2 separate regions of the Homo sapiens genome follow, and region 1 is linked to region 2. Evidence: fine-mapped expression QTL. A gene starts in region 2. The other region holds a variant in brackets. All regions are shown on one strand. Distances are from middle to middle.

Region 1 (16,071 bases), 270 kb after region 2:
CTGCCTTGGCTTCCTAAAGTGCTGGGATTATAGGCATGAGCCTCTGCACCAGGCCTATTTACTGAATTATTCTCACATATTTGAAAATGCATTTTAATTACAAGGGTGAGTTTGGACTAAAACAATATCAAACTCAATAAAAAATTTTAGAGAAAAAGTACAGAATGAACAGCTTTGACCTACAGTGATTTCTTCTGATTCATTTAGTTATCATACTAATTTCCTATAGTTTTGAGTGTATTTATAATTTAAGAGAGATTTGGTAAGAAAAAAGTTATGTATCAGCCATTCATAGTTACCATATTATTTATCAAAAGCTCTTTAAGGGCCCCTTTTGTTTTCAGAATGTCAAATATAAAGGCTTAATAACTCATATTTGAACTCAAGATTAATAATTTATATTACCCAATTATAAATATAGGTATAATTTATATTTATTTATAATACTCAAGTATAAATATAGGTGAATAGATCTCAGAATAGATTTCATAGGCAGTGCTTCTTTTTTTTTTTCCTTCATCTTTCCTGTTCTTTCTTGTAGCTGATATTTTACTAATAAAATAAATGGGTAAAGGTAAAGAAATGAGAGTCAACCATTATACCAGTCCTAAACTTCCCTGGTGAAAAAAATTAGAATCAGTAACCAATCAAAGTCTAGGGTCACCCTCAGTTAGCACACATAATTTGAAATTTGGCGATATTCCACACAACTTGCTGTTCGCTAGCAGAGGTCACAGCTGTGGAACTTGATCAAGTAGGTGACACAAGCATCATTTATTACACCATCAGGATAAGTATCTAAGACTCTTCAGTACATTTAATGCACTAGCAGTAGCTTTATAGCCGTGTATTTAAAGCACACGTTCAGTCACCTCTCCAAGTCATGATATAGATATTTTGATATTCACATGTATCTGATCTTTTAATATTCACATCCCAACTGAATTCCGACAGAGCAAGAGGCTTGCTCACTCATTTCCTACAGCTCTTCATGAATTGTATAGCACTTGACCCTTCTGCAATTGTGGACTCTGTCATATAAGGGCTAACAAAGTGCAAGGATATGTCTAAAGATGTTATTAAGACATATAAGAAGCAAAGTGCAACAGAGAGAGAGTCTGTCTCAAAAAAAACAAAACAACGAAAAAAAAAAGCAGCAAAAGTAAGACAACCTACTGCCTCTGCCACAGTGAAGACTTATCCACTTTCTATTGCATACGGTGGAGTAACTGAAATGTCCTATATTGTAGTGTACAGAATTTCAGAACCCAGCAAAATGAGAACCTTAATTTTTGTCTCATTTGAGCTGGTATGGGTCAAAGCTACTGCTCTAAAGGATAAATAAATAAAATTTTAAAATTAAAGAAGCACCATTCTTCTTTCAGAAGGGGGAAATTTTGCTTAAGCATGCTTCTTAAGCATGAAACTAAGGAAAAGTAGCAGAAACTTGTCAGAAGACTATTTCTAGGTTCATAATTCTATTTCTTTTCTTCATTTTTTTTGGTAACAGTTTTATTGAGAAATAATCCACAGATTCTACCTTCTTTAAAGTGTACAGTTCAAGGCTTCTGGTTTATTTACAAAGTTATGGAACCATTATTACAGTCAATTTTAGACCATTTCATCACACCCCTCCACAAAGAAAGCCTATGACCTTTAGCTATTGTAGTTCTATTTCCTTTTCAAAATAATTTTATTCTACTCATTTGTTCTTAGTTTATCTCCCAATTTTTGTTCGGTAGCCCTTTTGCTACATTCTCTTTGGGTCCCCGATCTATTGATCTGGTAGGATGGAAGGGAGATGGTGGAATGAGTGGAGAGGAGCTTTGTTAAATGCCTTCACAAGATAACCTGCTGGATTCCACTAAGAACAGTTTGTGAAAGGACATTGAGAAATATGCTATCCGTCTCCAAGTCAGGATTTCACTTCTTTATTCCCCACAGGGGAAGAAGAAACAGGTCTGTGTTCAGACACATTGATAAAATGAACTAACAACTGGATAAATGCAACTTCTGTTAATGGATTTCCTCTCTCCTCTTTTTTAACTCTTCCCCTCCCCGTACCCCTCCCAGCATCTTTCTCCTCTTTCTCCTCTCTGTCTTGTCTTATTTTTATGTATTCTTTTTTCTTTAGATTACCACAGGCCTTAATACAACAACAGCTTCTGTCCTCCAATTTTCCATTGGTAAGTGTTTTTTAGCAGTTATAACGATTTAATTTGGAAATGTTTGCTTTAAACATAGTGTGCAATCAGGATTATAATGCCAGATGCTTTTGGATTTACAGAATAGTAAGTCTTAATTTTGCAGTAAATAATCTACAACATTTTTAAAGTGAAATAAATATTTTTAAATGTTACATTCTGTTCTCACTTCTCTCCAGCAGTGAATGGTATTAAAAATACTGCAGATAATTCAAAAAAATCTTAAGATGATTTACATATGTATTTTGCATACATTGGCTTATTCTATTACAGCAGGATTACCTTGCTGGTTGTGTTTTGCTCAGATTAAGATTGAAATATGTTCCATTTCCTGAGCTCTGACTAACTGGTAGTGAGAAAGATAATTACTGGTAACCGAAAGAAACCAATTAAGGCTTTATGTTTGGCATAAATAATCTATGTTAAATTCAAACATAGATAATGAAAACAATGACCATATCTGGCAGTGTTTCCTTTAAGTGCTTTTGTTTTAGAGCTAAAAGTTCCTACCCAAAGCATTCAGTAAAATAAGGTGCCTTCTGATCAGGTGTTTGCAGTTCTGCTGTCTATTCTATTACCTTCCATTTTATTTTTCAAGGGTATGTATTTATAAATAACTTGTATAAATTTACAGAGGAAATGTTCTAGGGGAAGAAACATGTTGTCTTTTAATGGGGCCTAGGTCCCATTAGAGCGAAACCCCCTCCTGACCATTTCCTATGGCATGAGAATTGCAGGTGTCCCCCAGCCATGCTCAGAACAGCATCCTCCAGTCGCTTCCATATCTTAGAAGGTCTGCCGTTAGCAAAAGGACTGTTTCTCTCAGGATTCTTCTATTCCAAATTGCAAGTCAGTGTTCTACAGCCAGGAGCCCACTGTGGTTGATTGTGCTGAAGAACAGTTTTCTTTAAGTCATGTATTTGTCACTTTTTCATCACTGTGCCTTGTTTCAGCCTGTGTAGGAGGTACTATGTGAAGTCACCTGATTACATTTTGGGTTATTTTCTTCTCCAGTTGACAGTATTACCTACAACAATTTACAGACAGTTCAGAAGTCCATGTGTGATCATAAGTAAAGTGTTAGAAAAAACAAAAATAATGGTTTTTTTGATGAAAGAGTTTTCTTTGACTTATTAACAAGTGTATCCTGTTCTGTAGCAAACACGTAATGTTTTTATAATCAAAAAAAGTTTTATTTTTAAAGAGTTGTGGTGCTACAAAAACAAATTTTTTTAACTGTAGCGTGACAGGCAACTTAGAGCCTCTTAATCACAATAAACGTGTTTAATTATGCTATTAATATATAACATAAGCTGAATAATGGTTAATAATGTATCAGTATTCTGAGTACTTGTTCTTTTTGTTAGAGAGATGAACATTAGTTTCAGATATTGTCTTTAAGCAATTAAAGAACACAAGAGAATCAATTTTAAAATATATGTCTCCTAATTCTAATATTATTTGTACTTTATTCAAGGGTGGAGAGCTCCTACACCAATTAAATTATCCTTTATTACAGGGAAAAATTACTATTTTGGTGAATAGTATACTGCTAATATGGCATAGATTCTCTATTTCCTTGCCTTTCATTTGTACCAATTACAACAGACTTGATGAAAAAGTACCAAGAAGAGGAGGTAATCAGAGAATGAAGGGTTTATTACCTAAGACTCAAAACCCATAGCAAGCACCAGGGCCAAGGTCTCGGGACTAGACATAAACATGGGACTTAGCAAGAGCCCTTGGTCTCCCCACAAGCCTGAGGACTGTAGCCATCAGGCCAACTTATATTATTTAAAGCACGGATTTGAATCCTGCTGGAAGACTGGAAGAGTAACAGAATTGGGGAAAGAGAGAGAGAGAGAGAGAGAGATGGCAAGGAGAAAATGAAGGAAGGGTGGAAGGAGGAAGGAAAGAGGGAGGAAGGAAATGAGAAAAAGAGATCTCAAGTTTATAACTAAAAATACATTTATAAATCTTTTCAGGTGGCAGTTTTAGAACCAGAAGTGAAATTTTAACATATCCTTAGGAATGAAATGGAACAATTTAGTAAAAGAAATTGTAATTTATTGTTTATAAACTTCATTGGTGAATTTACTTACTACACTTTGAGAGTAAAAAATTGGGGGAAACCAAGAAGAGTTAGAATGGCAAAGAAACAATGTAGTAGCAAACCATCTGTTGTATGGTGTGTGGTGGTATGTGGTGAATACCGTATAGCGGGCAGAACTTTCCAGAAATGTTTTGTGTATCTCATTATCATTTGTTTATATGGATGTTTACGAGGTATAAGGGTGTGACATCATTCTGTTTATTTGGGTGATATGAGGGCCAGACTGAGGAACACTCACAAATTCTAGAAATGCCATAATTGTGGGTATCCATAGTAATCAGATACCAAAATAGCAAATTAAAATGAATCCAACCAATCCAATAGCAGCCATAATAGCCATTTTATTTATACTCAGTTCAAAAATTATATTAAGATTATGTTATAAAAAACTATATGTTAACAATTCAACATTTACATTTCCTTGTGTACTGTGGAATTCTCCAAATCTATACTAATAATAATATGTCCAGTTAGTTTTAGTGTCACTCCTTAGGAAGTCCTTTAGGATATTAAATGTTAAATGTTCACTGTATAACACAATGATTCAAGCAGTTTTCTAGGGAATTCTATTATTATAACCTAAGTGGTCAATTATGTTCATAATTGGGCATGTATAACCACAATTGGAGAAATTATTGTGTTGATACTTTCATATTGCTCTTGTAAACATTTTCAGTTGCATAACAAATGTTATCCAAAAGACTCCCAAGTTCCTCATACAAAAATTGCTTGAATTACTAAGGGGTGTCTCAAATAAATTCCATATGCCAATGTTTAGCAGCAATACTCTCTCAGTTCTTTCAAATACACACACACACACACACACACACACACAATGTTTATACAATATATACATATATTACATTATATATGTATACATACATGTGTGTATCTGATGTGTTTATATAATTATATATATTATACATGTGTATATAGATTATGTACTTGTGTATATATACATATACACACACATACATATATATACATAAATGTAAGGCTGTCTTAACCAATGATTTTTAAAGTCAAAGAATCCTGAAAATGCAGTTCTGCAAGATGAAATTTATCATGTTATCCACAGCTAAATCATCTTGGAAAGTGTCCTAAAATATTCGTAGAAGAACTTTTCATTTTTCCATTCCAGTGAAAGATCTCTTATCCATTTCTGTGCTGAGACATCGATTTGCTACCATCCTCACTTGATTCATTAGACGCAACTTATGGAATTTATGGTAGTAGCCTTAGGGGCATTTGCCCACTTCCTTTAGATTTCCTCTGGGATAGGAAGAAAAATTTGAGATGACATCCTTGCAAAGTGTTATCCTACAGATGCCTCCGAACTCTACTTTCTCAGGCAGGGTTGAGGACCCAAAGGAAATGGCGGTAGTACCTTGTGTCTACCACACAGTCTTAACAAAATTTCACTGAATATTTGTTGTGTGCTCAGTATTTGCTTGAGCTGGCTTCAACTGGGAAAACAAAATAAGTGAGAAAACAGAACGTTTTTACAGCACTTAACAATGTAGTAGAAGGCACTGGGTACATAGAGAGCATGAAATCTCTAGAAAACGGCATTGTTGTAAACAGGGTGGGTCTGTGTATATGTCCCCAGGGTGGCAGTGCCTAATGAGGTTCTTGAGGAAGGCTTCTTAGGAAGGAGAATCCCTGCCAACAACCCAAGTCACTTGAAAGGACAGGGAAAGGTTTTTCAAGTGAAGAGGCAGAGTGAATACAGGCAAGACATTGGAGGGGAACATGCGTGCCCTCCTAGAGCAGAGGAACTGGGCCTGGTAGCTATGAGCAATGTCAGATAAAGTTGCATCTATCTGAAGACTAATCTGTATCAGCTCAGGGCTTCAACTTACTTAATAGAGGGATAAATGTTAAATGGAGGTTTTAAACTCATTTAATTTAACTTTTTAAAAGTAAAATAATGTTGTTCTTTAGTTATTTAATAGAGGTCTGCAAAAGAACCTCTTTCTCTCTTGAGCAATAGAGAAATAGAATGAAATTAATTCTTCAGAAAAATTGTTTGGGTAGTTGTGTTAGGGGTTCTTTGTCACTTCCTTGATAGAGATCTGCATTGAGTCACTCTAAAAGAATTTACCAAGTAATATACTTGTTCAATTTAGCTTACCTCTTACATCAGATTAATAGGATTCATTAGCCAAACAAGGAATAAAGGTAAAGCATTTAAAAACACACCATGAAGAATAAATAGTTTGGCTTGCCAGACAAATCTATCTTGTCCATCACAGTATCCTCAGTCACTAGCCCAGGGACTCATAATAAATAGATGCTCATAAATATTGCTTCCCTGAGTGACAAGTAACCATTACAAAGACATCTATAATAGTATGTTACCAAGTGTTAAACTGATGTGATGCAGACATTTCATGGCAAGAGGGGGCTTGGGGGAGGTGATCTGAGGACCACAGTCAATGGAAATGATTACCCAGAAAGAAACAGAATCACCAGTAAACTATACTTTAAGTGAAACAAGTAGACAGAAATACATATGCAAGTGTTTATCAGTACGTAATTACTGAGCTAACTAGAATCTATTATTTGTTCATGATTTATAGAATTAGTACCTTTTCTCTTGAGTTTTACTTACAGATGTCCTAAACATTCGGGTTTTATTTTTGTACGTGTGTTTAATTTTTTTTTTTTTTTTTTGCTGCTTTGTTTTTGTTTTTATCATTTCAAGACAGAAGGAAGTCATTAAATCATAAATGCTTTATATTTACTTATTAAGATACACAGATGTTCTTAGGCTTGAATTATTGTCCTTCTGTACTGTACATGCTACGGAGTCTCAGAGATGAATGAGAGCCACTCTGTTTACACGAGTGTATTTTGAAAAATAAAAACTGGAAATTACAAAAGCTAAAAATACTCTTAGCTGAATTGGAATATTGCTTTGTGAAAGAAAAGAGATCTGGTATTATTTTTTCTTTAATAGATGTAAAGGATAAAATGTCACTTGTAAAAGGTATTCTATTTCATTTAGCATAAGAAAAGCAGTTGATTTTTCCCTTGAGCCTAATTCATAAACATCTTAATTACTCAGAACTTGATTCAGTAGAGAAATTCTCTCTCAACTCTTTTAGAACAGGTAGTTCAAGAGGAGGAGAAATCGATT[C/T]CTCCATATCTTGGTATGAATTGTTGCTCATTTCCTCCACGAACTTACTGAAATATATTTAAAATTAGATTCTCATTTTTTTTTCCAGAATCACTCTCCCTGGTGAGTAAGACCTTGGGGAACTTATTATGAAATAGTGAACACCTCTTCTGAAACATGGACACCTCTAAGTATAAGACTAACAAAATATTTGGTGACCTAAGCCCAAAACAAAAATAAATGAAACATTAGAAAATTTTAATGGCAAAAATAATACATATGTTTTATAAGGTTAAATACGTGTTTTATTTAAGGGTAAGATTCTTGGATATAAATGTATTCAACTAAGATTTAAGACTTAATTTCCAGATCTTCAAATATCTATATTAAAACAAATTTTTTTTTTTGTTTTATATATGGAATACCTCTATGTTAACTAAAATTTGGTAAGTAAAGGTGTGAAACTGATTATGATGCAGGGTATCCTGCTTTGTCATCCCAGAGATGACCTTTTTAGGGAATGTTTATTTTTTTAAATGAGTTTAAATGAAATATATATATATAAAACATATGTATATTTATCTATAATATTTATAAATATATATTTATCTCAAATCCACCTCACCCCAAATTCTTAAGCCCTAGCTTAAGTAATAAAAGAGAATATTCTGAAATCCTGTAAAATACCACTAAACCCAAAATTCTGGCAAAGATTGTTGAGATTGATTATAAGTGTTTTTTAATTATTAGAACTGATAATTAAATATTTTTATATGAATTAAAATGCGCAATTTGACACAGGTATTATCCCCTTTCTCTTTTGAGATATTCAATTTGTCACTCATCTAATGAGGCTTAGAAAAATGTCAGTAATTCATTCATAAATTCGTGCTATTAACATTTTGGGGGGACTGTACTAGTAGAAGGAATACAGCAGTGAACTACAGGATGAGAAGAAATTCATTATTGATGTAGACCAAATGGTCTCTCAAACACCACTCCTCCATGAAAACTCATCCCGTTGCCCCAGACTGATATCTCTGAAACCCCACTTGCTCTGAATTTATTTTATGACAGGTACTTCACTCTGCTTTGATAGATACACTGACCATTTCTGCACATTCACTTTCACCTTTTCTAACTTAAATATTCCTTGAGGGCTAAGGAACTTACAAGTGTCCCTTTCTGTATATAAGACAGAATTTGGCACACACCTAGAACTAAAAACAATGTAACTAAATTGAATTCCTAGGTTAGGTTAGGGATTTCATACTGTTCCACATTGGTGCTGAATACTATCTGCATTCTTGACTTCTGAAGCAAGGGAGTATGCTAAATGAAATCCATGGGCATTGTTAGAATTTAGTCTGAGCCTGCAGTTTCCAGTTTCTTGTCAATTAACCAGGGACTCATCTGTCAAAGAGAAGATCTTTAAGCTCTTTAGAATATTTATTATATGTATCATAATGTGCTTACGTTCCCTGTAGAGAAAGCAAAGCCTAAGACGCTGCCCCAATCTTTGAGAAGTTCATTATCAAATAGAGGGGAGGAGGTGGGGAGAGAGTCCACGTGGGAGAAGAAAACAAGTATGGCAGTAAACATTGCTGATTAACAGATGCAGACTACAGAGGAGAATGAGAGTTTAATTTGTTAGAAAGTCCAGGAAAGAGGGAGGGCTGGAGGGAGGACTTCATTATTTGGGAAAGAGATTGACAAGAGCAGGCATGGTACCACCAGAGGGTCAGGCGTCACTGTGAAGGTTACGGGAATGGCACCCTGTAGGAAGAACAAGATGCAGGAGCCCTGCTAAGAACTGGGGACCAAGGTCAGAGCCAGACAGCAACAATGATACTAATGCTGTCTCCAGATTGCCATGAGTGGTGGAGGGGAGACAGTTAACACTTGCTGCCCGGGATGGGGATTAGTCCTCCTAGAAAATGGGCCAGGCATGAGCATTCGGGTGTAGTTTACATGGGCCCTGGGGAAAGGAGGACGGCCTGGCAGGGAACCTGGCAAAGCCAGACACATTTCTCTTCCTTGTGTTTCATGCAACATGGCAATGAAACTACTGTGGGCTTGGGAGAAAACCTGCAGGGGGTGGGCACTTGGAAGTGGTTGGAATGTGGCTTGGCCTTCCATAAATTGGGAGAGAATGGATCCCTCTCTCCATTATGGTAGGAGTACCAGTGACAATGAAGAAATACAAATATTTTGGAAGTGAGGGAAGAGGGATAGGACTGGAAGGGAGAAAGGCACAAGCAGGGAGGAGGACAGCTGTTCATTTTATATCCTGTGGTCATTGTCCATCTGCCATGAACTGGAAGAAGTCCCCTAATGAGGTTTGGGAAATTCAGCCAGGAAAGTGACTGAGGGACAAAATATTAAGTACAATAAATCACGCACTGTCACATTTAGCCAGAAAGAAAGGTTTGTAAGTCTGATAGTCAAAACAGAGATTATTACTAGTAGCCTCAGTTTAAACATAAATATAAAACAGAAAGTGGAAGACAGTTGCTTTTAGAACCTGGTTCTTTTTCTATATATTATGAAAAAAAGTATTTCAAGTATAAAGGAAGCATGTTTTTAGTTCAAGTACAGAATATTTTTGAAGATTTTTATTGATTTTATTTTTCTACTTTATTTGACCTCTCTTAATCCTTAATATCCATTTTTAGTAGATGCTTAGAATGAAAATTTTGCTTGCATATTATGTTCCCCCATACAGCATTGTCCTTGAAATATGTTTTCTCGTTAATAAACGCTAAATTCCCCCATGGGTATTTTTTGGTGGGCAAAACAGAGGTATAGACATAAAGTCTAGACTTCCCTATCCAAATAATTGTTTAATTGATAATTTGGGCTGACCAAAAACTTTGGACATATTCATTTCTCTCAATTTACAATTTCTATTCATAAAATAATGAATTATCTTAACTTTGGTGACCATATTTTACCAAAATTAAATTTGTTTGCTCTGTCAAGAACAGTTCTTGACAGATCCAAGAGTAATTAGAGGATTTCTGTTCATGCAGAATGGAACTGTTCTTAATTAAAGTAATATCTGTGGGCTCCTTTCAGTCACAATTGCCATCCCTGTCACTTGGGACTGAGAAGCCCCAGGACACTTCCCTCCTGGGCTGCCACAAAGCATTATCCGATACAGTAACCATTTTTTCCTGCTCTGCTTCTTACCCTTGAATCAAACTGCTGCTGTTTTGGCTACGGCCCCTGAACTTCGACAAAGCATGAGCTGCCTCTATGTGCAGGCATAGGCGAGGCAAATCAAGCCTGTATTTCATGAGAGCCAGAAGCTGCTCTGCATGGTGGGATGTGCACACACTGTCAGACGTCAGGGACAGCAGCGGAGAGCATACCAACCAGGCAGACCGTTGACTCAACCGCATTCCCTATGTAGCCATTCCTCATGCATTTATTTTACCCGTGATCAGAGAATTGGTAAAATAGCACACTTAGGACCAAATTCTCATCTTCCCAGTAGATTTTCCCTCTTGTCTTGAACTCTGTATTCCAAAGTACCCTGTGGATATATGATGTACAGTAAGGTAATAAGAGTAATAAAAACAAGTTGCTTTGAATATTATCAAGCAAGAAGCTAGCTACTAGAAAATAACCAATTATACTTTTATAAAATTTAAACATTAATGGAACAAATTTATATAGGTAGTCATGTTATTAAATAAAATGCTCAGATACATAAAATGTTATATAGCATAGGTTTTTGTACTAGGAGAGGAATAAAACAGCATGAAAACAAAACAAAAAACATATTAAACCAGCCATCCTGGAAATTACAGCATTATATGCCTAAGACTGGGAGTCATATTTTAGATACTGTTCATGAGTTAGTATTCCTAGACTTGCCATGTCATCAAGATGTTGCTCTACTTAACAGTAGATCATTTTGATGCCGTGGGTCAAGAGAGCTAATACTTTTAGGGATTTTCTGGCATGTGGTAAAGAAGGAAATAAAAATCTAAGTATGATATAATCATTTTTCTACAGTGCTGTTCATAGAACTATCAAACTATTGGTAATCTGGATAATAATGGTCTTATCTGAGACAGAATTATTTGAAAAAGAATTGCAAAGTAGCAAAGAAGATTTTACTGTGTTTCTTAATTTTGGGGAGGTAGAGTAAGAGTATTTTCTCCCTAGTGAATAATACTGACCTCAAAATTCACTCTTACCTTCAAAAAAAAAAAAAAAGGATAAATGCCAGAACTGCTTATTATACCAATATCTTCATGTTGCTCATCACATTTTTCACATTTCAGTGTAGAATGAGGCAAGCCTGTTTCTTGAATGCTCCTGAATGCCCTAGCCTAGAGTAACATGTAATATCCCCTGAGAGTAACAGCTTCTAGCTTTTTAAAAGCTCCCTAAAATTTGTCCATTCATCTCTATCTCTCTTTCCACTCACTGCAACCTCAAGTTAATGGTCCTGTTCTCCATTAATCTATCTAGAAAAGATGAAAGAATGGGCTGATCCTGCTAAGAGTTGCTCTAGTTTGTAGCAGGGAGTTCTGAGTAGCCAGAATGCATCCATTCTATAACTTTATGATCTTTCTATACCAAATGCTGTTGTTTACATGCAGCTCCTAGAGCTGTGCTCGTCTCTGAGGTCTGAGTTTTGAGTAATGGCAGTGGCAGCACTCGCGCTGCAGGAATCCTCAATAAGGTTCTGTCCAGACACTCCTCAAGCCTTCAGTATTTATGGGTCCCACTATGCTATCTAGAGGCGTGATTTCTGGCAGTGATTTTCCCCATCTATAAATTCTGTGAGATCAATTCTCTCCTTCTGTGGCCCTGTGCTGCATTTGAAAAGGCAGCTCATTTTTAAGGCAGAGCTTTGGGGAAAGAGGCTGCTCCCAGCAACCACTACCAATCCCCAAGATAACAGTAGCTTCTTCTATTGCATTCTACTGTGATTTACTTTGAAAAGTCCTGGGATTGATGGGGAATGATATAACCAAATAAAAAAAAAACTACCCAAAACTACCCAGGACTTGAGAGACTAAACACCAATTGATTGATCCTTGTATAAAAGTAAAACAAAATAGATGAAATTCTTGAAGATACAGACTCACAATCCCTAATCTGTAATTTCATATTACAAAAAACATGGAGATATCACAAGCCAGTTTTTATAAAATGTATGTGGTGGCAAAGTTTGACATGAGCTGAATTCATTTGGCAGCAAGACCTGAGTTGAAAGGATTTGAAGCTATTTATGATCATTATTTCTGTTACTTATGTGAATTATCATGCATTTCACTGCAGAAGTATTAATGTGTTGGATTATAGAGTGCTGCTCTAGGCATGGCATATGCACCATATTACCTTTTGGAAATCTATAAGTTAATTAAGTTATTTGAATTATAGAATTCATCTAACCTCAAGGGATTATGGACCTATATGGCTGTTATTCCAAGGGAGGAAGTAACTCTTTAATTTTCAGTAGGATTACTAATATTTGTATTTTTAAGTGGCTTTGATTTTATATCAAATCACGCTATTCTTTATACTGTTTGTTATGCCAACTACTCAAGAGGGATGGAAAGAACAGACAAAGTTTATTTGTGAATTTCAGAAACTTCCTGGCTCTGTATGCATTACATGTATATTACGGTAAATAGGCTACTGCACAATGAGCAGAATTTTGATATACTTAATATGGATTGCATTTGATTAATGTATAATTGCTGCAGGTTCGTGTGCTTGTGTATTCTTGAGATTATAAAGTCTAAAAGCTCTTTAGGATTCTCCAGGCCGGCATAGCACAGAAACATTCCAGTTAGCAAGCCTTGGAAGTTTCTGGTTCTCTCTGGCTTGAGTCCCTGAGGTTTAATGAGGTCTATGAGGGTCAATGTAGGCTTCATTTTGACAACACAGTCAAAAATGAATAGCAGGTCAGCTGTGGTGGCTCACACCTGTAATCCCAGCATTTTGAGAGGCCAAGGCAGGTGGATCACTTGAGCCCAGGAGTTTGAGACGATCCTGGGCAACATGGTGAAACCCTGTCTCTACAAAAAATACAAAAAAATTAGCCAGGTTTGGTGGCGGGTGCCTGCAATCCCAGCTACTTGGGAGGCTGAGGCGAGAGGATTCCTTGAGCCCAGGAGGTTGAGCCTGCAGTGAGCTGTGATCATACCACTGCACTCCAGCCTGGGCAACAGAGCAATACCCTGCCTTTAAAAAAATAGCTTTTTTGTGTGTGTAAATATAGCTTAAAAGTCATTTCATCGATTCTAATCTAGTTGTACTGTGATTCATTTCCATATATAAATATTTTAATTGAGTCAAACCTGCCTTAAGAGAAGAAAAGAATTTCAAAAATTTCAAAGTCTTATTCTCTCTTTATTCTTGTCCTGTCATTAAATACATTTGATTGTGCCGTGCTAAGCAAAGTGGAAAATGAATTTTGTATTCTGGATTCCCTTGCTCTGGGACCTGTGATTTAAGACATTTTTGAAATGTAGGAATGTAGTGCAGTGCAAGCTCTGTACAGAGGTGGGTCTGAGTTGTGTGGGTCCACCTTTGAAGCTTATACCACTTGGGTGAGGGTTAGGGTCTCTCTCTAAGGAAAAAACATACAAAGTTACACATTCCAAATTAGGTACAAATGTGAAAATTTATTTAGAATGCAAAAAGAAATAAAAACAAATTACAAATTGTTCAAAATTGACTGTACCACAAACATCACAAAATCAAGAAATACAACATTTTTGTTAACTCCCTGAAATGTTCTATAGTACTTTTTTCCTTATATCTTTTTGGCTGTGTACTCTTTCTATTTATTTATTTATTTAAAAAAATTTTTTTTTGAGACGGAGTCTCGCTCTGTTGCCAGGCTGGAGTACAGTGGCGTGCTCTCGGCTCACTGCAACCTTTGCCTCCTGGGTTCAAGCGATTCTCCTGCCTCAGCCTCCTGAGTAGCTGGGACTATAGGCATGGGCCACCACACCCAGCTAATTTTTTTATTTTTAGTTGAGACGGGGTTTCACCATGTTGGCCAGGATGGTCTCAATTTCTTGACATCGTGATCCACCAACCTCAGCCTCCCAAAGTGCTGGGATTACAGGCATGAGCCACCACGCCCGGCTGGCCATGTACTCTCAAATCACCTTTCCTGTGACAACAATTCTGTAATATTTTCTGGAAATAATAGAAAGGGTATTCTGCCTCTAGCTTGTTAGATCAGAGTTGATGCTTAATATTTGCCTTTGCAACTCCTTATTGATCATGTCATTTAGATTTTTAGAATCACTATAGAATTGGAAAACCTCTCTCTTATTTATATTTGAGGACATTTCAACTTCCCTTGTATAGTGACTAATCTTAGCTGATCTCTGAATTGACATCACTCATTAAATAGTGTATCATCATTATCTTTTAGTCATGATGCTGGATGCATCAGCACTGTGGGTGTAGGAGTTCCTGGAAGCTGTTTTTATATTGAGAATGACTAGACTACAAAATGGAAAGTAAACTACGTAGCTGTATCACACTAACCCAAAATAAATGTATTTCCAACTCAGCTTCTTCTTAGCAGAATCCCAAAAGCAGTTAGGTCCACTCTGACACCTCCTGACATGAGGGGCAACGTGATGAAGGAGTAGTCCAAATGGAGACAGGATCTTAACCAACTGCAAGTGTTATAAAATATGGCCATCAGACTATATTGCTAGAGCCTCTCCCAGGACCTTAGACAGTGCTAACCAAAGTGAGGGCCATGAAGCCGAAGCTTCATCAGCTTCATGGTAAATCCTCTTCTGTCTATGACAAACATGTTGGAATTGAACATTACACTTAGATTTGTTACATTGATAAATATACGTTCACATTCTGACATTTGTCTTATTGACACTTCCTTCTTTCTTATCCCCCTGCAAGTTGCCTCAACTTTCCCTTTCAAATTCTGATTACATCTTATCTTCCCTTTATTTGATGTTCTATTGCTTTTGCCTTGTCTTATAGGGACCATAGAGATTTCTATATACTGCTATAGCTACTGTTCTGATTCTCAATAAGAAATAATCATTAATGCAAAACAATATTTTTTATTTAATGTAGATATTTTAAGCCATGGATTTATTTTTTTATATTTGGAATATTCTACAGCATATGCACATCAGTTTATGACTCATATATACTGACAAACAACTTTTACTGTTGGTATAAATGGGCAGAGGGAAAAGAGCACTGATTTGGGAGTCAAGTCATATAGTCCTTTCTCTGCCAGTTGAACTCCCCACATAACCATGGGTAGTAGTAGAGGCTGCCTGGGCCCTTCACAAGTAAGCATGTTCATCTTTGTGATCTCTTAAATGTCTTACCACTGTGGTCCTAAGTCCTAGAACTGGGTAACAACAATGAACCATGAGTTAAGCAGGAATTTAGTTTGGCTAAAAACATGGTTATTATGTTTTCTGTTTCAGTTAAGGCAGCCCTTACAAGAAATATTAAAGCAGTCGCCATATCTTTAACCAATTGTAATTTATACTTGTAGCTTATTTTGTCACCAGGGAAAGATATTAAACAGAGGAACAGAAATGTAGCATTGGCAGAACCATGTGATGTTGTTACCCAGATAATACTTGGTGCCACCCTGA
Region 2 (16,071 bases):
TGACAGCTGCCATATATTGCATTTCCATGTAATTGGGAACCCACATTCATATGTATGCACTGCACATACTCACTACTCTGGCTTATGCACTGCACATACTCACTACTCTGGATTATGCACTGCACATACTACTCTGGCTTTCCCTTATAGTTGGTCCCTTTAAAAAATTTTCTGGTCTTTTCTTTTTTAATTGATGTCCTTGAGCCATAAAACTTCCTGGTCTTTTAGTGATTTCCGTTTCTTTCTATAAGCCTGATAACACAAGAAGATTATGTTTTATGCTGGATCTACTTGTTTCACAGGAAGAAGGCCTTCCAGAATATCTAATACACTATACTGTCAGAAGCACATACTTCTCTCCTTGGAGTTTTAAATTATAGGTATTATATTTCTTACTTTGAGAATGGCTGGTCATTTTTGATGGTCTCTTATTTTTAGTTCTATTTTTGGAATATTATTTTACTTTTCTAAATGTATTAAATATACATATCTTAAATAACAGAGTTATTCCAACATCTGAAGTCTTTGTGAGTCTGATTGTGGTTACTTCCTGTTTCTACTGACCCACTGTGTTCTGCTTTCTCACAGTATTAGTGATTTTTGATTGTAAACACAACGTTCTGTGAATCTTCATCTGTTGTAGTTCTTTGAAGCCTGACTTAAAGAAATTGTTTTTGTTTTGTTTTTAGGGTCCATGCTAGAGGTGATTTGAATTTGGTTTTGCCAGGTGCCTGGGAACACTTTCAACCCAGAACCGCTTTAAAATTAATTATTAGCTTGAGGTTTTTAAAATCAAACAGAAATGTGAATTTGTGTCACAACCTCCTGAGAGCCAGATTGTGGTTTCAAATTTTAGTGAGAGAATTTCTGATTTTTTTCTAGTTCACCTTTCATTGAGGGCCGAGCTATTTGGGGATGGGTAATAGCTTTATGTATGGATTTTCCGGGACAGTACTTTGCATACTAACTCATAATCCATCACAGACAGATACTTTTGTAAAACTAAGGTCAATATGAATTACTAGGGACATGGAATGCTGCTTGGATACTACTGCTTATACAATAACTATGAAAGTTTTTAAACACTCTCCATTTCTGTACCTATCTCAACGTGTACTGGCAACAGATAGTTTGAAGACTGATCTGCAAACCACACTTTGAGTAGCACTATCCTATCATTCTTCCCACCTTGAGCAGGCCCTAAGCTTTATCTCCGTTCCCAACCCCACATGTCCGTCACAGTGGAAATTCAAGTGTTACTGAAGTGGGCAGATGTCTCAGAGTCCTGGGTGGATTACATACTCCATTCTTTATCTCTGGATTCCTGCTGTCACTTCATTTTTGACCTCTAAGGATTTATCTTTATTTCTCACTAATTCATCAATGTGTTAAAAGGAGTTTCCACCATGATCCAACACTCCCTCTCTTAACTGAAATGTACACACATGTTCACCAAAAGACACGTGCAAGAATATATTAACTGCATATTCATAGTTCCCCTAAACTGAAAATAGCCAAAATTTCCACTAACAAATAAGAAAATTGTGATTTTCCCCCCCATATACTCTACAAGATACAAATGAACAAATTTTTGCAACCTATAGCAACTGGAATAATTCTTATAACCATGATATTGAGCCAAAGAAACCAGATATAAAATCACATATATTGTATGATTCCACTTACATAAAGTTTGGAAACAGGCAAAAATAACCATCCTGAAGACATGTTATGTTTCTCCTTGAAACTTTCTCCATGCCTTGAGGAATATGATTGCTCAATCAAAGTGGTCATGGAGACTTCTGTTTATATTCTTTGGACACTGCTTACATGAGGTGTTCCATTTTTGACACTGCATTGCACACTACACTTATTATTTGTTCATGGTTTTGTGCCTATTACTATACTTCATTAAAAAGTTTACTTAATAAAAAATACTTTTTATCTAATAGTTTATCTAACAGTTTATCTAACAGCAACAATTACCAAGCTGCGAAAGCCTGAAAGTTGTGCATCCTCTTCAACACATCTCTCTCCCTTTATCCCTATGCCCAGTCAGTCACTCTATCTGTTACTCAATCCTGTAGTTCTGGCTCCTCAATACGTCTCAGTTCTACTCTCTTCTCTCCATCTCCTTTGAAGACCATCACCTCTCACCTGAGATACTTGCTCTACATCCTAATTCTCTCCCTGAATCTACTTTTCATGGCTCTCCAATCCACTCTCCCCTTGATCTTCCAAACGTACAAATAGGACCATGGTATGTCTCTGCTTAAAATCCCTTCCATGCTTCACCATTGTTTTCAGGAATAAGAAAAAAGAAAAGAAAATCTTCACTGTAGCACTGTCCATGCTAGTGCCTAGTGAATGTACTTGCTTTACTGTAATACTGTGCTGTAGACAATAACATTAAAATATTGTGTTGGATATTATTTAAACCCTGGAGAAAAAGTATTAGAAAATGTTTCTTCAACTTATTTTGGCATTCTTCAACTCTTTCCTTTAATTATTCATTCAGATCATGTTACTTCCTGACCCAAGTCTCCCCAGCACATTAATGTGATCTAGTCTCTGCCTGCTTCTCTGACCTCATCTCGTACCCATACCACTCTTTCCTTTTCTTTCATTTTACTTACTTTATGACGATGGTGATTTTTTAGAGACAGGGTCTCACTCTGTTGCCCAGGCTGGAATACAGTGATGCAATCATAGTTCACTGCAACCTTGAACTCCTGGGCTCAGGCAATCCTCCTACTTCAGCCTCCCAAGTAGCTGGGACTACAAGCATGCACCCCCATGCCTGGCTAATTTTAAAATCTTTTGTAGAAATAGGGTCTCGCTATGTTTCTCAGGCCAGCCTCAGACTCCTGGCCTCAAGTGATCCTCCTGCCTCAGCCTCCCAAAGTGCTGGGATTACAGGCATGAGCCACTGTGCCCAGCCTCACTCTTCCCTTTTCTTGCTATCTTTCCTAAGCCTTGGACATCTCAAGCATAGCCCTGCTTCAGGGCCTTTATATTATCTGATCTCTCCAGCTGAACTGCTCTTTCCCCCACATGTTAACATGATGGACTCTTCCGTATTAATGAAGTGTTAGCTCCAATTACACTCTTTCAGAGAAGCTTTCCCTGACTCTCCAATCTACAGTAGCCTCCCTGCCCTAGACACTCTCTACCACATCATCTGGTTTTATTTCTTCATAGCATTTACCAGTGTCAGAAATAATCTTGTTTATTGTATGAGTTTACTGTCTGTCCCCAGCACTAGATTGTAGATGCCAAACGGGTGGGCACTGTATTAGCTTTATTCACTGAGTCCACTGCATCCAGCAGTTTGGCACATAGGAGGTGTCTGATAAATACTGATTGAATGAATGTGTTGGTGACTGGGCATTCATTCACATTTTCAATGTAGAACAGTGCTGTCTAATAGGACTTTCTGCAGTAATGGGATAATCTGTAAGTCTGCACTTACTGTCCAGTACAGACAGTGCAGCCTTACAGATTATCCCATTACTAGCCACCCTTAGCTATTGGATACTGGAAATGTGGTTAATGTGACTGAAGAACTTATTTTTAAATTTAATTTGATTTGAATTTAAATAGCTACCTGGGGACTAGGACACTATATCGGATAGTGCTGGTCTAGAGGACATAATTTAGGATGAGGGATCAGGAAAGATCTCTCAGATGCAAAAATGTGTGAGAGAAGACTTGGAGCATGAGTTGCTATAGCCAAGTAAGAAGTGAGGTGAGGGAGAGGAGGGTGGAAGATGTGTGGTTAGGCCACAGGAAACAGGAAGGGCATTCCAGAGAGAAGCAGGGGCAGGGAAAATCCCAGGAAGTGGAGAAACTTTAAAAAAAGGGATTTTTAGTGTTGAGGAATCAGATTCTGTTTCAGAAATCTTACAATATAATGACTTTGTGTTGTCCCATAGTTTATCTCATCATGGTATTTCAATCTGGGGTGGCAATAAGTAACATGTTCCGGCAGGACGTACGTAACAGAGCCAACTCCCTAATATCCCACCTTTCTCAGTGCAATTTCATTTGCAAAAGGCTTACTGATCTTTAGGGTCTATTTTTGTGTGTTTTTTTTTTTGATTTTTGTTTTTTGCTTAGGAGCCTCAATTTTATCATACAGTACCATGTCTTATGAGTAATAGATTTTATAAGTTTATTAGCTGCTATTGGGTTTGCTCTCATGTGGCCTTTTATTACCATTTTAGAGTCTAATAAGTCAACTGATTTCAGTTTGTTCACCCTCTTCATATTTATATTTACATATTTTTTGATTTTATAAACTTTGTTTGATTTTTACATGGTAAATAAGAATAGTGACTCACTTTCCCACATATACCAAAATGTTTAATGCTTCATCTCAAAAAATATCAATGGAAGGCAGATGAGTGAATTCTTGCAACCTTAAAATATAATTTAATGTCTTCTTTGTATTTCATATGGATGAATCACCTCCCAATAATTTAAAAGCTATGTATCTGATATATGTATATATATACATGTATATATAGAGAGATATAGCAGATATATATATATATATATATACACACACATAGCAAATATATATATATATATGAATTTAATTCCCATCGTGTTATGATTATTCAAATACTGGGCAATAATTTCCACTTATCAAGAAGAAGTGGATTTATCTTCTAAGAATACTTAGTTTAATTCTTTTGGTAGACTAATTACTATTTCAAAACTCTTTTAATTAAAAATAAATCTCATTCCATTTTAAACTCCCTTTCCCACAAGCCTATTCATTTTCACCTGACATCACCTTTTATTTTTTGCAGATGTTTTTGATGTAAACCATTTTTTCTGGAAAAGCACTTCTCTATTTTTCTATTAGTTCGGAAGGTTTTTGGATTTTGCAGACCCAATATTCTTGGAGATACTTATTATGGCTCACTAAATAGAAACGAGGTGTAAGGGTTAGCACACGAATTGGGAAACAGGAAGTTTTGCTATCTAACCTGGGTTTCCACCTTATTGCGTGATTTCAAGTAAGTTGCTCACTAAGAAGATGCTACTCTCGGTTCAATGGATTTTATATATGATTTATGTATTTTTCTGATTTTCTAAAGGTTATTTAAAAGTTTTTAATGACTAGTTGAACTGGCCTAATCAAAAAAAGTGTCAGAGATGAAACAAATATGAACTTGAGCCTCTACAAGGTATTCATGTTAGTTCTAAGGACTGCAGACTGGAGTGTACCAACTTTTACTCCCCTCTTGACCAGCTCAACACCACTCAGGACATTATTTAAAAACAGTCTTTGTGTCTGTTACTGAACAACTGCAGGGCTGTAGCCAGAAATATGAGCTTGCTTCATGGCTAACAGTATAAAAGTTATTCAAATGTAATAGCAAAGCAAAGTGGTAAAAATTAAGGAAGCACAATAAAGGGGAAGATTGAAAAATAAACTTGGTCACATAAATTGAATGTTAAGAAAGCCATGTCGAGAGATACGAGAAAGAATATTTCTCTGAGAGTGCACTACACAATGGAAAGAAGGGGACTTCCTGGGAATTGAGGACCTTATATGAATTAAATTCCAATCATGTCCTGGACCAAGTGTCAGCGCTTACTAAAGACAGTTTATTTAAGCAGCGACCTTGGCATCAAGCATGGCCAGACTTGATCCCAAGCTCCTTTAACTTCTATGAATCTCAACTTTCTTCTCTTTAAAAATGAAGATAATTATACCTACTTTGCAGGCTAATATAAGGATTAAATGAGGTATTCTGACACTGGATGAAGAATAATTATTCCCCCATCCCTCTAACAACACCAACATGCATTCTTTAGAGGCGATTTGCAGTGGTTAGTGTGTCAAAATCAGACTGCCTGGGTTCAAGTCACAGCACTCACTAGCTGTGTGACCTTGGACAAGTTACTTAACCTCCCTGTGCTGTTTCATCATAGTAAAATGAAGCTATCAATGGTACTTTTCCCACAGTATTGTTATGAGGAATAAGGGAGTTAGTATGTATAGTACTTAGGACGGTGCTCAGTGCATAGTAACTAAACATTTTAAAAGTGTAAGCCAAAAACATTAAATAGTTTTGGATTCTTTCTACAAGTGATTAATTTTGTCTTTGGCTATATTCACATGACTGGACAGGAAGGCAGTAACAGCCTTGTTAGCTGTGGGCGAGTATCTCCTAATTCTGTTTGGGGCAACACCACCTGCTCCAGCTAGGGCTGTCGACTGTGGCAGGGCAGTGCAGGACAAGAGCCTCTGAGGCCAGCCAGTCTGCCCTGCATCCAGCCTTTGTCACTGACTTTGGGCAAGTTATCAACATTTCTGAGTGCCTCCTCCCTTGTGAAATAGGGATATTTTTTGCCTCTCCAGTTGGTGTTAGGATTAAAAAGCTAAAGTACGTCTAGCCCCACAGCCTGCACCCCGCAGAGCTACAGTGTAGCAATTGTTACCACATCATATATATATATATGCACATACATATATGTATACACTGTATATTATTTATATGGCAGTTAAGCCTCTGGGGATTTTGAAGTAAGGGAAACAAGAAGCCAGCTAGAAATGGGCCCTTTCTACCTGTCATTCGGTCTCAGTAAGAGGAAGAAAAACAATTTCTTCCTTTTGCAACGAAGTGATTACAGAGGTCTCCCCTTGGACCCTGATTTTCACCGCCCCTCGCCCCACAAATGCAGGCAAAGGCACTATCCCTTCCAATTTTATAATCTACTCATTTCTGTACGTGCGGGTTTATCTGGCTTGGTGGCAAGCCAAGGGTGGGTGGGGAGAGGCATTAAAACCTGGCAACCCCGCTCCCCCATCTCCGGATGCCGCAGGGCTCCTGCCAGCCGTCCTCGGTTAAAAACGTGCTTATGGATTATTTCACTTCCCTGCAGTTCATGTGCAGCCGCTCATTACCACCCGCTTCAATCACCGCTGCCAGCATCTCCCCTGAACGTTTTTCCCTCCCCCGATTTCAGGGCCATTGGTCATAACCGACATTTAAAGGAAATAAACACTGATTTAAAAAATTACAACACCCATCTCTGCCTGAAGAGCCCAGAAGCAATGAATAACAGAACAGTCCGGCGAAGAGAGCCTGTCGGATCTTAGCTCCGCCAGCCCTTCCTGCCTTACAATTCCCCACAACCGAGCAGCACAAATCACCATTTCCAGGCACCACTCGAGTCTGCCAATTCCACTTTCGCTTAATCTCATTTTAAAATCCTCTACAGATGAGGCTCTGTCGCTGCCGCGAGGGGCCGGGCGGCCGCGGCGGGAGGGACAGGGGGCCTGGGTGGGAAGGGAGCGCGAGGGCCCCTAGCGGTTCGCGGCCTCGGGCGGATTCCCAGAACGAGTGCGGGCCGCCCGGACTGGCAGACTGCGAGCCCCGAGGGGCGCGGGACGCAGCCGGCTCAGACAAAGAAACCGGCGCCAGCGGCCGTCCCTGCCGCCCCTCTCCTTCCCTCACGCATCCTCCCAGGAAAAACAGGGCACACTGACGGCCAAAGGGGCTGGCCTTCCCCTTCAGACAGCTGGACGGGAGGTGCCCTCTGCGGGGCTTTGACGTCCCTCGCAGAAGAGTCGCGGGCTCAGCGGTCCTCGACAGCGTCCCCGTCCCGCTCCCCGGCGGGCGCCCCTCCCTGTCCTCCCGGGTGCGAACCGGGCGCTGGCCGGGGACTCCGGGGACGCGTGCGCCCCTCGCCGCGCGAGGTGCCGCCGAGCCAGCCCGAGAGGGCGGGGGGCGGGCGGGGCGGCGCGCGGGGGCGGGGGAGCGGCCGGGACACGTGTGGCGGCGGCGGGGGGGACGCGGCGCCCGGGGCTTTAAGAAGGTGTGGAGCGGGGCGGGCGCTTTCCCAGGCCTGGCCGAGGGGCGTCGCGCAGAGGCGGCGGCGGCGCACGGAGGCGGCAGACGACGCGCTCTCGGCGCCCGCAGCCCCGGTCCCGCGCTCCCGCGGCCCAAAGTAACTTTGGGAGCCGCCGTCTCCCGCGGAACTTCTCGGCGGGGGCCCGCTCCCAGGCCCGCTCCCGAGCCCGTTCCGCTCCCGTCCGCCTTCTTCTCGCCTTCTCTCCGCGTGGCTCCTCCGTCCCGGCGTCTCCAAAACTGAATGAGCGAGCGGCGCGTAGGGCGCGCGGCGGCGGCGGCGGCGGCGGCGGCATGGAGCGCAGTGGCTGGGCCCGGCAGACTTTCCTCCTAGCGCTGTTGCTGGGGGCGACGCTGAGGGCGCGCGCGGCGGCTGGCTATTACCCCCGCTTTTCGCCCTTCTTTTTCCTGTGCACCCACCACGGGGAGCTGGAAGGGGATGGGGAGCAGGGCGAGGTGCTCATTTCCCTGCATATTGCGGGCAACCCCACCTACTACGTTCCGGGACAAGAATACCATGGTAGGTACCGCAGCACCTCCGCGCTCGCCGCCGCCGGGTGCGCCCGCCAGCGCACCTTTCTCATCCCTTTCCTTCTTCCAAGGGGCCTTGGAAACAAGAACCATGACAACCCTGGCCCCAGCGATGCGCTTGGTCCAGGGAGCGAGAATAAAGTTAGTGGAGAATGGAGTCACAAGTTGGGATTCATTCTCCATGTCCCCACTCCCCGAACGCATCTCCTGGTAATGAGCTGGTGCTTGTGCTAAACGCCTGAGAATTCTTGGAGGCCGGTGTCTTTCCCCCTCACTCCCCGTACTTACCGCAGGCACTTTAAATTGAACCTGCGCATTTTGTTTCTTTACTCCTAGGACTTGGATTTCAGACCTTTGTCCTGCTCCCGGTCCCCCCAGATGGGTCCCCGGGGGGGCGTTGGGGGCTGTCGCTGGGCTTTGCGGGCAGGCTGGTGACAGATTGAAGCGCCCAGGTCTGTGGCTGCCCCGCGCCGCTCGACCGCAAAGTTCCCGCTGCTCACCAGCCAGGAGTCCCTGGCATTTCATTCAGTGTCATACAGCCCTCCTGAAAGGGAGCGGCTGCTTCCAGCTCCCTATTCTTTTGAAAGTGTGATTTAATATGTCAGTAATTGATGATTTTTCTGATTCCTGCCTTACTTTTACATGGTGCTTCTTGTTAGAATTATCTTTGTGATGTTTATTAATGACTTTGTATTTTATCTGCACAGCTTTAATTTCCAGGTAGAGGCTGGAATCCCTTATAATTTAGAGGTATCTTAAAAATGGAATCATTATGCAGCCCTGCATCAAAAATAAACATTACAGAAGAAATAAAATTTAGCTCCAAGAAATATAATATTATGTAGTACATGTATTTTAAGCTAGTACATCGAGTATGTGGAAAAATAAAAAATGTCTCTTTTCTGTATTTCTTCTGGGACTTCTGAACATTTCATGCCTATAGAGCTTTTAAGCAGCGACAGGCACTATTTAATTAGAATTTCAACCCCAAAATATTTATACCCAACCAAATAGAAACCATTGTCCAGTAGGCTCCTGTTAATAGTTTCTATCTCTAATAGGCTAACAATCATTGGCATGGCGGGAGATAATCTACGGGGTGCTAGCACTTAAGATAGACAAGCATTTAAAAATTGTAAGAATCCTTAAGATTTTTCTGTTTTTAAAAAAACCTTGATATCTATTATAAAATATTTAGCCTAAATAAACGTCTCCTAGAGGTTTTAAACAGTGCTTTTACAACTTCCTTGTGGCATGGTGGCAGCCTTGTCTGTAAAGCAGAAGTTTAATTTGGTGGAATTTTAGAAATAATTTTGGAAAATTAATGTTCTGTAACTAGTCCCTTTTTAGATAAAAGTGCTTACTACGCCCTCTTCCCAAGAACAATCTAGTGCTTTTCTGAGATAATGAGAATCTTTAAGTGGAAGGAGCAGCTACTGTGATGGCAACCAGACCTAACCCAAAGCCTGATTGACAGCCTGCTGCTCCGTGCGACTCTTAGCAAAAGTTCTTGCCCGGTATGATCTCTCAGTGAGAACGGTGGGTAAGTGAGTGAGGCTGGTCTCAAAGGCGTGACTGTCAGGTTATGATGGAAGACCATGTGATGATACAAAGCTTTATTATTATTTTTTCTGTTTTCCACATCCTTTGGAAGGTCTCGATATTGAAAACTTAACTAAAAACACCAAAATATCATACACCCTTTGGTTTTGCTCCCTTGCACCCTTGAATAGCAAATGCAAGTCACCTTAAGACTCACCATAATCACATATCTAAGTCTGAAAAGGAATGGATAACATAGAGTAGAAATAAAGTGTAAATACTTCAAGTTGGACATTGCGGAGGAGAATCTCAATTTCCACCTCTTTTCCACCACCAGAAAAGGTAGAGAAATTGTATTATGTAAGTTATGAAAGGTCAAATTATTATAAGCTTTGAGAATTGTGTCAGATTTTAAATTTCTGTTATCTATTTTATTAAACATTTAGATTTTGGAACTAGCTGTAGCTATAGGCCTTAAAGTAAGAGTTTTTTTTTTTTTTTTTGTAAAATGTTCTACAGGTAGAATACATGTTTAAAAATGAAGTGATGCTTATGTATGTCTCTTTTCCTTTTAGGCTTTTGAAAATTAATTTAAAAAATTCAGACACACACACACACACACACACACACACACACACACACACACAGCTTCTGTTAGAATTGAACTGCCAATAGGAAAACTTAATCTCATGTACTTTTGTGGTTGGCCCATTTTGATATGTGACCAAAATGAAAGGTCTTTTGCCCAAGAAGTCTTCTTAAACTTACAAGAAATGTGTAAAATGTTAGCTTGAGACTTTATTTCTAACCTTCTGGATCTTTAAAGTGTAACAGTTATATCAGAAAAAATCAGTCACATTTATGATTTACATTGAAGTCACCATTTGAATGAACCATGTTTAGGTGTAGAGCTGATAGTTGTGACTTTTTTTTTTTTTTTTTTTTTTTACCTAAAAGAATGCATTGAGATAGAGGTGGTGTGCACAATAGCACCTAACATAGAACATTTCTGTAGATCAGTCAGCTGCCCTCTGACACTGGGGTGTGTGGCAGAGCTCAGAATGTAAAATGGGGCAGCAATTGCCAGTCTAGAATAAAAGTGGTTCACAATTATAGGTCCCTGTATGTGTCGTATTTAAATATATCTATGGAATATCTTTAACAAAAATAAAAAATATATAGTACTAAAAAATCTGGAGCTTTCGAGTCTAACAGAATTGTCACAGATTTTTACATTAAGTAGTATATCCATCTATTTTCAGTACTGGCAACTCTATAAATAGTGCATGGTTACATCTGGTGTGTTCTCATCTCTCAATTAAATGTCATTTGGTATCTCTTTCTCATCTTCATATATCTTTTAAATTATGTTATCTCTGACTCTTTTGAAAGGGCATTATTAGTCACAATGAACCATGAGTATACCACAATGTAGAAGCTCAGCGAAAGGAGGTCTCTATACATCATGTTGAATTAGAAAGGTCTCAGGGTCAGAACATTTTTTTTTTCCTAGAATTTCCTTTTTTTTTGCACAAATCCTAAGACATGGTCAGTTTCCGCAATGTGCGTTTCGGGCACCAAACCTGGAATTTTTTGTTTTGTTTTGTTTTGTGTGGTAGAAAGTTGCAAATGATGGGGAAATAGGAAACAAGAACCTACATGGTTTAGTCAGGTAGCCATTTCTGTTTTCCAGCCATGCCCCGTAATCAGCACACCTTCTCCTAGGGACAAAGGCAGTATTGTGAAAAGTGTGATGGTTGGATTGAAGTCTGCACCTTTCCTCACCCATGGTCGTTCCTTTTCCTCACCCCCAGCCATCAGGTATCTACCATCCATTTTGTTTGCCACTCCTCGCCTTGCCCCCAATCAATTTATGGTGAATGTGACTTGTCAGTGTTAAACTTTCCCACATTTTTTATTGTAATTGTAGAAAGATGTCTTTCCCCTCTTTGCTTAAAGTAAGTTTAGCATCACTGAACAGCCAGATAATAGATATGGGGATAGAAAGACTTGGATGCCCCTGAAATCATGTCAGTAAGGAACTGCCCCTCACAAGGTTGGCTTTATTCAGTCCCCATCAAAAAGGAGAGGTCAGCCATTAGAAGAAGACATTGTGCATGAAAGACAAGCGTTAAGTAAATGAGTCTACCCAAAATACTTGAGCTTTGGTGAGACAATGTACCTAAATTTCTGAATGGACTAGAATTTCTGTTACTATGGTAGCATAAGATGGGGGAAGTGTTCCATTAACAATGAGAAGTATGCTCTAAAATATCAACTGAGAGAAAAAAATTTGGCCTTGAGTAGAATTGAATTGGTGATGTGGCATGATGTTTTAAAAGGGGGATTTTACTGTATTTTGTAAGTCCGGCATCACTATTGGTAATTTTTTCATGCTGTATATCTACTCCCACTTTAAAAAAAAATTATACTGTGAGACAGACAGGAAAATCAATGTTCTATTCCTAAAACTAAACATTTACTTAAAAGAAAGGTATAATCAGGATAGAGTATTGAGGGCACTTTATTTTGACAATTTCCAGTATTACTGTTAAAGGCACACGTGTTCTGAAATTAACTGGTTGCTATTTAAAAATTCTTGTTCAAAGGAAGTGCAATTTAATGACCTTTCAAATACCAGATGATATTTATGTCAGACGTAATTTTTGGAAATATATTCCAGATTTAATTCCTTTCAAAGGAATGATTTTATTATTTGAAATAAAGTAATTTGCCATTACTAAAGTAACTGCATTGCTGATCAGGTGATCGGTTATTTATCCTTCATATGTCTGATTCTGGAATCAGTGTATTTAAACTTTCAAAATCATTTGTCAAATGCAATTTATAAGTGAACTGAAGCTGCGTCCTGCTTATATAGGACTATGAAAATTGGGCATTTTAGAGCATTTTGCTCTATTTGTTACATATTTATCTTACTCTCTACAATTTATTTCATACATATTTTACTGATGTGGTTGAGATTGTTTCTTAAATCATAAATCTTGCTTCCTGTAATTTATATTCACTGTGAGTTTCAATTCCAATTTTAAACTAAAATCAAGTCTTTACAATTATAGTTCAAAATATTTCATTTTGGCAGAAATTCCTACTTCATTCATTCCTACATTACTAGGAGTTATTTAATTATATTTCCTTCCAATTTGTGTGAATCTTTGTTTTAAACTATTAGTTTTATTTGCATTGAAAATGTTAATAAAATGGTAATGTTGTATCGTTGTAATAATATGAATATAGTTTTTACAGAACTGTTTTATTCCAGTAAATTTGACTTTCCATCTTTAAAAAGAGTGATATTTTACCAAGATTTTAAAGTCAGCATTTTTGACTTTCAAATTTTTATGGATTAGTTTTATTCAAAAGAAAATATCTAAAAATCTGTCTTTGATTTTTTTTTTTTTTTACCTCCTGGGAATTGGTCAACTTTATAGAATAAACTAGAAGCCTTACTCCATCAATTATTTAAGATTGGTTGCATATTAAGCCATAATTGTTTTTCTGATCACTTCAAGTGCTAGTTTGAAACTTATGTTATATCTTTAATCTTCATAAATAGTTGCTGATGCAATGACCCCTTTATTTCAAATAACCTTTACATTTGAAAAGCATAAATAAATTGAGTGACCAGTACTTTTTGAACATTTACATTTTAAAAGACATACACACACACACACACACACACACACACACACAGAAATATGAAGTTCTTTGTGTCACATAGAAATAGAAAAACTGGATAGCACTACACTCCGGAAAAAAAGGAAGGTGGAGTGCATTAGGTTGGAATGGGCAGGTTCACTGTGGACAGAGAGAGGTGGTTTAGGCTATGCCTGAGTAATGACTTAATACACGTTAAAAGGCAAATTGACTTATCTAAGTATTTTCATTTCAAAAACATTGGGGTGATTAATCCACCCTCTTTACCTGATTTTAGAGTCATTTTAAAAATAACTGAACTCTATAGCATTTCAGTCTCATCAACTTTAAGCAAAAGCGTTTTAAAAGCCCTATTTCAGATACTCGAATTGAATTTTCAAATATGAATATCTCATAATGACTGTTCAAACGCAGGAATTGTGTAGCTTTAAAAAATTATTGGCTCTTAGGACATTCCGCATGAAATGACATGATCTCACTTTGGTGTCAGTTATGTGGCTCAGAAAGTAATTTTCACCACAGTCACCTGCCATGCCCATCTCATTGAAGGCAGAGCTTCTGAAGGGTTGAATGCTGTGCCTATAGGTTAGCCAATTATTTTTAAAATGTGTGCTTCTCTAAAACTATACCTATTTTTTTCTTTTTTATTCTATCCTCTCTAAGAACCAATTATAGCAAATGTATTTGAGGATGTGTGTGTGGCAGGGGGATCAGTACAAATGTAGAAATGTTGATTTGTGGTATAAGGCAGCCCTAAATCACTCAAAATAAAAAACAAAGCTAAGATAATTAGATAGCATTGAATCCCACTAAGAAATAGTTACAAGCGTTCTGAGTTTTCAAAGTAAATGTTTAAAATGCAGGTTATCCTTTAATGCTGAATTAGCTTTCCTTAACAAAATAAAACTTTATGTTGAAAACAAAATAAAATTTTATTATAGCTAGGCACAGTGGCATATGCTTGTGATCCTAGCTACTTTGGAGACTGAGACAGGAGGATCACTTGAGCCCAGGATTTCAAGACCAGCCTGAGCAACGAAGTGAGACCCAGTTTAAAAAGAAAATTATTGATTAAAATACTCTTACATGATAGGAAAGGTGACATGTTATAGATAGCACCGATTATTGATGTCCACTGGTGCCCACAAACCAAGTGACCTGAAAAGGAGTGACAGTAGACCATAAGGACTAAGGTCACCTTAGTCCTCTCTCTCTGCCTTTCCCATCTCCTTCCCACTGTATCTCATCTTCTCTTCCTCTCTCTAAATTTTATCTTTGTCTTTCCTCCTTTGCTTCCTTTGACTCCATGCCATGGTCCTTGCTTTCCCTCTCCTCTTCCTTTCTCCTTTCTGCTTCACCACTTTGTTCTTTTTCTTTTTAAATTCTTTCACTTTCTTCCCTTCAGGTTTCCCCCATTGCCATCTCTACACCTTTTTTCTCTTCTTACTGATAGTAATATGAAAACAAATCAGTACATTTATTATCAACTATTTAGGTCGGTCATAATTCTTGTATCAAGCTCTGAATTGCTGTGGTCCTCCCATAGAATTTCTTCATATCGCTGAATTACATGGAGCTGCAAGGGAGCCATGGAGGTGAGTATTTTTTAACTGGATGCTGAAGATAGACCCGTGTTCATATCTTGCTCTGCCATTTATTGGCGGTATAATTCAGCGATATGAAGTGAAAATCTGTTGATTAGGGTCTTTGGGAAGGTTCTTTTTATTATTATTATTGAGGCAGAGTCTCAGTGTCGCCCAGGCTGGAGTGCAGTGACACCTTTTCGGCTCACTGTAACCTCCACCTCCTGGGTTCAGGCGATTCTCGTGCCGCAGCCTTCTGAATAGCTGGGACTACAGGTGCACACCACTAGACCAGGTAATTTTTGTGTTTTTACTAGAGACAGGGTTTTGCCGTGTTGGCCAGGCTGGTCTTGAACTGTTGACCTCAGATGGTCCACCTGCCTTGGCCTCCCAAAATGCTAGGATAACAGGCATGAGCCACTGCACCCAGTCAGAGTCTTTGGGAAGACTCTTGATAAAACTGATAAAGAATATTTTATAAAAGACTCAGCAGGCACGCACTTTTTGCCCTAACCTTGCCTATTCTAGCTCGGAGATGATACAACCATCTTGTGACCTTGAGGATAATGGCCACATGCCAATGATGGTGGAACAAAACTTTAGAGGGAGCTGGGTCCTCCTTTATATCTTCAGGCAGCTATGCCAGCCCTGAAATAATGACGGGACTTCTTGTATTGTGAGAAAAATTAAGTTGTTTCTGTTACTTGTAGCTGAATGCAATCCTAATTAATATGTATTTCATCTAAACACACAGATGTCCCAGTTAACATTTGCTTTTAGGTCAGTCATAATTCCTGTATCAAGCTCTGAATTGCTCTGATCCTCTCATAGAGTTGGTTTTGGTAACCTTGATAAAACTGAGGTGT

Direction of the effects. Positions count from the first base shown, and alleles are read on the strand shown. Sizes are in standard deviations (SD) of each study's normalised expression.
For the expression in fibroblasts of the gene that starts at base 7,864 in region 2, allele C in region 1 goes with a lower level than allele T (small effect, 0.21 SD a copy in GTEx).

The links.
Region 1: its variant is fine-mapped to the expression of RELN in fibroblasts (GTEx, PIP 0.99).

Annotation. Positions count from the first base shown.
Region 1 is chr7:103,709,255-103,725,325 of GRCh38, reverse strand. It overlaps RELN (reelin), which reads left to right. Exons shown (of 65, transcript NM_005045.4): 8 at 2,135-2,186. Among named protein-coding and RNA genes, the nearest start is that of SLC26A5, 270 kb to the right of the region's middle. The variant C/T (reference allele first, on the strand shown) is at 7,460.
Region 2 is chr7:103,981,451-103,997,521 of GRCh38, reverse strand. It overlaps RELN (reelin), which reads left to right and starts at 7,864. Exons shown (of 65, transcript NM_005045.4): 1 at 7,864-8,391. The coding sequence starts at 8,166. RefSeq lists a cis regulatory region at 952-1,547.